Homo sapiens: one gene and its partner. Changing the gene in region 2 together with the main gene of any one other region gives a genetic interaction. Each region holds a gene or a part of one and is shown on either strand. Other genes may lie near its edges.

Region 1 (3,500 bases), on a different chromosome or scaffold from region 2:
TAATTAATAAATACTCCGGAATACCCTTGGCTTGTCTACCGTCCCACTTTTACTCCCCAAATAAATCGCTTCCCTATAAAAGTGGTTAAATGCTATATGATAGTTTAAAAATTCCATTTTGTTTACCATGTTTGTTTTTCCCTTCCCTCCCTTTTAGAGTTTCGTATTTAATGATTATCTGATGTTCTTACTTTCAAATCACAGACTAGCCACAGCTAGTTTGTCTTTATATGGCCTATTAATTAAATATTATGTGGTATCTTAATGGGGAATATGTTATTTAACTTAGGCCGAAGACTGTACTATGGAAGTTACACCAGGTGCAGAGATCCAAGATGGCAGATTCAATCTTTTTAAGGTGAATTTTAGTAAATTATCCTTGGTTGCTCTCATTTTTTGTTCTTGAGTCTGCTCCCATGCCACTACTCAAGGGACAAGATTAAAGTGGAAATAGCTACCTTTTTTCCAAACCTTCAGCTTCCTGGTGACTTACAAATTTGCTGATTGTTGTTTTATCTCCACTTTTGCAAGCATGTGAATTTATAGCCTATTATACTAACAAATGCCGAGTAAAACTATTGTTTGCTATATGTTGTGATTTCATTTTGAGTCGTAATACATGTTTGTAGGATAGAAAAGTTAGTGGCAACAGATTATGCTCTCATTGTAGATAATACTCTAATCTTTATCAACAGAATTGGAAACTTTTTTGTTCTCTTTAAAAAAATGGTAAGGAAGGTGGCATACTGTTTATCTCTATGACACTTATAACACTGATATCATTGGTGTAATGCCCTGATAGCTCAAGATATCTTCAAAAATCTTAGGCATTCTCTGAGAGGCTTTAAGAACTCAACATAATGAGATACTGCCATTGATTTTAAAAATTTGTTCTTAAAAGGAGTAGGTTTATGTGAGAGACTTTGAGGTTGATACTACAACTTGTATAACAAGTCTGATTTCTGGCTTCTCCATTCCATGGTATGATCACAGACCCAGTCCAAAGAATAATACTATATTGTCATAGTTCTTTTATGGAAAACTGATTGTGTACTCTTTTTTCTTTACCTTAATAGTTGACTCTTATATTGAATGACACTGGGATGAAGATTGGGAGTGGCTTTTAGATTGGGTTGTATACTCAGGGAACTTTAGTGGACTGGAAAGAGACCACTGCTCCCCTTTTGGGTTTGCAGCCCTGTCCACCAGAATACTGCCTTATGCAGTGTGTGTGCTATGTCTGCAGATACAACCACTCTACTGTACACAGTTCTATATAGATAATTTTATTTTAATTTACATCCTACTTTGCGTAAGTATTTGGTTCTTCTTTTGCAAATATTTTGAAAGTATGTGATGATGTCTGTTGTGTTTTAAAGGGTCATCAGTTTTTTCTGGGTTATATTGTCTATATAGGCATTGAATATATTAAACTTGACTGCAATGGGTAGAAAAGTTGTCTTAATGAACTAGTTCATTAGCAGCAGTGCATTTTATTTTCTTTTAATAGAAATGAGAACTGCCATCATAAACTGTTAGCTTCTGTATACTTCATTTTTTGTAGTAGACTTAAAAAGAGAATAAAAAGAAACTCCTAGGGGTCAGTCTCATTGAAGGTAGCCGTTATGAATGTGTATTTTATATACATACTGTGTACTGAAAAATTTATTTTGAAGTTTCTTTTGGCTATGTGAGAGGAGGTCATAGAGTATTCCATTCTGATTGGATTCTGAATGAAAGATTTTAATTCGATGGGTACAGTCTTCATGGTTTTCTTGCCTTGATAGTGTGTTTAAATACTAATATGTTTGGTAGAAATACTGATTTGGGAATAGGGTGTGTATTAAGAATATGTGTGGCAAACATTTTTTCTTTATGTATATTGTGGTCCGTAGGAAATGGTGGAAATAGGGCCATGATGAGCAGGACATTGATTTTAAACTAACCTGCAAACATTTGTGTAGCCAATAGGAAGCTGTTTGAAAGTTCCTGAGCAGTAGAATGAAGTGGCAGATCTGGTATTTAGAAAAGGAACTGGCAGCAGGATGGGCTGTAGAATGAAAGGGGTGTGAAACAGATAGGGAGCTGTTGCCATACTATGGGACTAAAATGAACTAGGGCCTGAACTCACTTATGAGGATGAATGGGCAAAGGAGTGGATTTAAGAATTAAAATTTATTTTCATATCTGCTGCAAATAGAATTTTTTCATCCTTAAGTGTGAGACAGCCCATCAGCCTCTTTAAGATAACTTTATTTACTTTTCATTAAACAATTTGCAAACCCAGTAACAAGTAGAATAGTACACATGAACCCTTAGGTGCTTATCATACAGCTTCAACACTTAACAGTGTTTTGACATTCTTGAGGTAACAGCCTTTTATGTACTTCAATATGAATAAAGTTTTTTTAAAAAGCAAAATAAAAGAAATTTAATAGGTATAAAAATAAAGCCACTCAATTGGGTACAAAAACAATTGTGTAATTATTTAATTAGAGTGAATGGCAAGAGAGAAGTGACTAGTGGGAATAGATAACATGTATGTATGAGAAAACGTTGACTACAACGTTTTCTTAAAATATTTTTTATTCATTTGTGCACATATGCATAGATTTTCCCCCCGGCCCCCCCCCCCCCCCCCGCCCCCGGCTGTGAATGTATGAGCTTTGTCACCAGTTTTCTGAAATTTTACAGTTATGTGTCTTGGTCTGTTTTCATCCATTGTACCAAGCATTCTCGATTTGGAAGCACATATCCTTCACTTATGGAACACTTTCTTCTTTTACTTTTTTCTCTGCTTTCTTTTCTATTCTAGATAATATTGGATATCTTCGAATGGTCTTCTAATTTTTTTTATTGTTTTTCTCTTTTTCATCTTTTCCATTATCTGGGAGAATTTTTTATTCTTATAATGTTATTGTACTTAGTTTTCATTTCTGTTGTTAATTTCCAAGAAAATTTTTCTTTATTATTTAGTTGTAGCATCTTATTATTCATGCCTACAGTAATGCAATATCTTTTTCCCTCCTCTCTCAAAGGATATTAATGATAGGCTGTTTTGTTTCTGTTAGATTTTTCTTTTCCTGCATAGTCTGTTTTCAACTTGATTATTTAAGTTAGTTATTTTTATCTTCTGACTTAGACTTTTCTGAAATGTTTGTTGATTGTTGGCCATTCACTCATGTAACGGTGGGCTGCTAAAATTGATTGGAAGCTCTGTACATCTGAATAGAACTTGCTTGACTGCAGGCTTCACTGGAGGGCTGTTTTTTCACATTCCCTGATGTCAGTATTTTTAGGTGTTTTTCTTTTTGTGGTAATCAGATTTTTTCAGATAAGGTATTCCAGTATTCTATCTAGAGGGTATATACTTGGCTGATGCAAATGTTCTGGTAGCTGGAGCTTTTAATTTCTGAATTTTTGAGGGTCCTGACATGATAATCATTGTCTTTGCTTTCTCATCGCTGACTTAGGATTCAGTTTTCTTTGGTCTGCTCAGT
Region 2 (3,947 bases):
TAAGATATTTCAACTGACCATTACTGTGGATCTCTTCTGGGCCTATGTAGTCTTTGGACAAACAGATTTAACTCCATTAAGTTCAATAGTTAACAACAGTTATTGACTAAAAATACTTTAAATGTGTATTCTGGACTTTGGATTGAAAGTGGTAATGACATTAAAGATAGATTTAATGATGTAAGCATAAATTTATAATTATTGAATATAAATTTTAACACACATTACTGTAAGTGGTTATTTACTTTGGTTACTCCACCCCAAACATAAAGCAGTTGGGCTTTTTTTTTTTTTTTAACATTCCAGATGGTGATGTAAAGACTGATATTGTATATAATTGGTAGAGACATTAAAAGTTATATAACCCAGGTGGTTATACTATCAAATTCTAGTAATCATCTGATCATTTATTTTGTTTCACGATTCACATGTTTACATAAGCACTTATCATGATGAATAACGATAAGAAACATATTCTATTGTATTGGGTGTCCATTTATGCAAATTCTTGAGAATCCTTAAATTAAGGGCACAAATAATGATTACAACTCTGTAACTAGAAGTTTCAGTACATTCAAAAGCCATTCTAGGTATAAATAACACTGACCACTGTATGAATTTGCAGATTAATGCAAATGAAATCAGAGTATACCCCTATAAGCCTACATTCCAACATTTTGTTATATTATCACAAACAGGTGGCTGGCCACTGAAACTAAAAGTTGCTCTCAAAGAATTCATGGATTTATTAGAATTTTAAGGTAAATTTAAGTGGAGAGAAAGCACAATATTCTCTCTCCAAAGGTAACTTGAAATATTTAGATTGTCTTGGCTGTAAGGTTCTGACCCTAAAATTACCCTGGGGATGGAAATGGGATTAGGCTTATAGTGGTACTTATTCTTCCATAGGTAAGCCATTCTTTAGCTCTTTGAGCATTCAATAAAATGCTATGAACTTTCTCTCTAGAAACATCTATAAAAATCTGTGAACAACTTTAGAAAGTTGATTAACTTCCCTGAACCTAACTGGAACTTGTAGTCTTTTAAGTTTTCCTATAAAGCTAGTTTATCCTAGTTATTTAGGACAGAGTTGGATCTATGAAACCAATCCAAAGAAGGATATGAATACTTCTGATATGGGTCTGACCTAGAGCCAAAAGGATTGTAGCCAACTCAGCTGAATTCTAGATCACCTAGATTCTTTTAGAAATTAAGGATTTTGTTTAGTTTTGAAACTGAGGAGGTAGGCTAAGAGACAGTCATCTGGTCTTGTCTTGAAATTGAGCAAGTTCCCTGAGGTCAACAAAATGCCATCCTTCACTCACTTGCTTAGCAGAAAATATTTTGAGTTTCCATTATACGGCAGATATTATGCTGGGTCACTGGGGATAGAACAATGACTAAAATACAACCTGTCTCTGCCCTCAAGGACTGTAGTTTTACATGGAAGTGCCTCCCTTTCTCCTTTCCTTTCTCTTTTTTCTTTTTTGTTTGAGACAAGGTTTTGCCCTATTGCCCAGGCTATAGTGTGGCGGTGTGAGCATCGCTTAACACAGCCTTGATCTCCTGGTTCAAGCAATCCTTCCACCTTGGCCTCCCAAAGTGCTGGAATTACAGGAGTGAACCACCATGCATGGCCTGAAGCCTTTTTTTTTTGACAATTAAATGAGAGGTAAGGCTGGGTGTGGTGGCTCACACCTGTAATCCCAGCACTTTGGGAGGCTGAGGTGGGGGCATTGCTTGAGCCCAAGAGTTTGAGACTCTCTCTAAGAAAAAACAAAAACAAAGAAAAAAACAGAGGTAAATGCTATGATAGAGTTGTGCACAGGAATGTTATAGAAGCACACCCCGAGTCAGCCACAGGGAGTCAGGAAAGCTTTTCCCAAGGTGGCAAAAAATAAGCTGAATTCTGAATGGCCTTCTAAGACTCCACCAAAAGATGTTACAACCTTCAAGGTAGCAGTTTAGTACGAAACATTTGTTGAATGAATATTGAATAAAAGGAAGAAACTCTATTTGTTAACTTTGAAAACATTCTCTTTAACTCTTGTCTGATTTGATTCCCTTTATTTTATCAAGGTGGAAACCAAGGCACACACTGGAAAACAAATTTGACAAGCTTGTTCAAACTGTAAACAGAGCTGGGAATAGACTCTTACCATCTGAATCCCAGTATAATAGTGCTTTATTCAACTCTTTTTTTTTTTTTTTTTTTTTTGAGACAGGGTCTTACTGTGTCACCCACCCAGGCTAAAGTGCAGTGGCACAATCATGGCTCACTGCAGCCTTGACCCCCTAGGCCCAAGCCAATCCTCTCACCTCAGTCTCTCGAGTAGCTGGGACTATAGGCATACCATCACACCCAGCTAATTTTTGTATTTGCGGGGGTAGAGATGGGGTTTCACCATGTTGCCCAGGCTGGTCTCGAACTCCTAGGCTCAAGCAATTCACCCACCTCAGCCTCCCAAAGTGCAGGGTGTGAGCCACCACACCCGGCCTTATTTAATTGTCTGAATCTAGTCTATTGGTGATACAGTCTGAGAAACAAAATATTTGTAGGAAATAATGGTTTCCTTTTTACATTATTGCTTCTAAAATTAGAGATTATATAAAAGTTAAATAAAAAATGCCCTGAACTCTCAAAGAGAAAGGTAGCATAGCATATCAAATCTGAGTAACATTAAAAAATAGAGAATATGGATCCAGAAATGGATACGGTAAAACAAAATTTCACATTTTATAGGTTTAGCAATAATTATTTTTTGGTCTTCATGGTACTCATGATCTATGTGAAGTAACTATATCATAATACAAAACTCAGCAATTAACCAAGTATCAATTACTCAAATTTCTAGAAGTAAAAAGCATCAAAATACGTATTTTGTTGGCCTAAAATATACATGATTACTTACTGATCTAATTCCAGGTAAATTTAGGAGGGATCCAAGGACTGGCACTCTTCTAATAAAGCCAACAACGACAGGAAAGAAGCCCCTGGGAGAGGGAAAAAAAAGGTTCTTAATATTTACACATTTTCTATTTTCAAAATAATTGCTAACCAAGGAAAAAGAAAGTATCCTGTTAAAATTCTGAATAATTGAGGGTCTTCAAACTTAGAAATAACTACAAACTTAATTAAAAATTTTGTGATTGTTGGTAAAAATGTGACAAGTACATGAGGCCTAGCTATATATAACTCAGATTATGAGTTAGCTCAACTGCTGAAGATTTCTCCAACTATGAGTTGTGTGGGGTGAAACTGATAAAAAGAAAGGGGCTGTTGAGACCATATGTGTAGAACCATGAAAATAATAATAGCTATCATTTACTAAGTAAGTACTAAGGGTCAAAACATTTAGTTAACACTAAGAGACTACCTGCCAGATACTGATCCTCACAGTATGTCTCATTCTTTCTTGGTAGAAATACAAGTCTACAGAAGTTAAACAGCTTCTAACCAGTTTAAAATTGACAGTAGATCAGTTAAGCTACCTCAGTATAGGAAGAGAATGAAATAGTTTATTTTAAAAATGCAAAGAAACTAAACTTTTCCTGGGTCTTAAAATATGTAGTGATACTGTGAAATATATATTTGGTCTTTGACCTCATTTTCTGGCTTACAACTCCTAAAATACTTAAGAGTCTCTACAAGGTGATGTCTTTTTGTATACTAATGAGTTATCATCAATGGTTGGCAGCCCCTAGGCAGCTTCAGGATGGGGGCTGGTCACCAGAAAGACCAAGGCAAGATTAGAGGGCTGGAAATCTGAGCCCTACCTCCTAACCTCCACGAAGGGGAGGGGGGCTGTGAAGCTGGTCACTCATGGCCAATAATTTAATCAATCATGCCTAGTAATGAAGCCTCCATAAAAACCCAAAAGGACAGTGTTCAGGGAGCTTCCGGATAGCTGAACACAAGGATGTTCTTGGAGGATGGTGGGTTGGGG

What was found. A genetic interaction does not mean that the proteins touch.
Region 1: changes in GOLT1B (region 2) and FIP1L1 together harm fitness more than expected from each alone (negative genetic interaction), as found in Homo sapiens cells (one large-scale study listed by BioGRID).

What each region holds. Positions count from the first base shown.
Region 1 is NC_000004.12:53,391,141-53,394,640, forward strand, and holds part of FIP1L1 (pre-mRNA 3'-end-processing factor FIP1), read left to right. Parts: intron 1-289; coding exon 290-358; intron 359-3,500.
Region 2 is NC_000012.12:21,511,342-21,515,288, reverse strand, and holds part of GOLT1B (vesicle transport protein GOT1B), read right to left. Parts: intron 2,995-3,947; coding exon 2,913-2,994; intron 1-2,912. UniProt on the Homo sapiens protein: May be involved in fusion of ER-derived transport vesicles with the Golgi complex.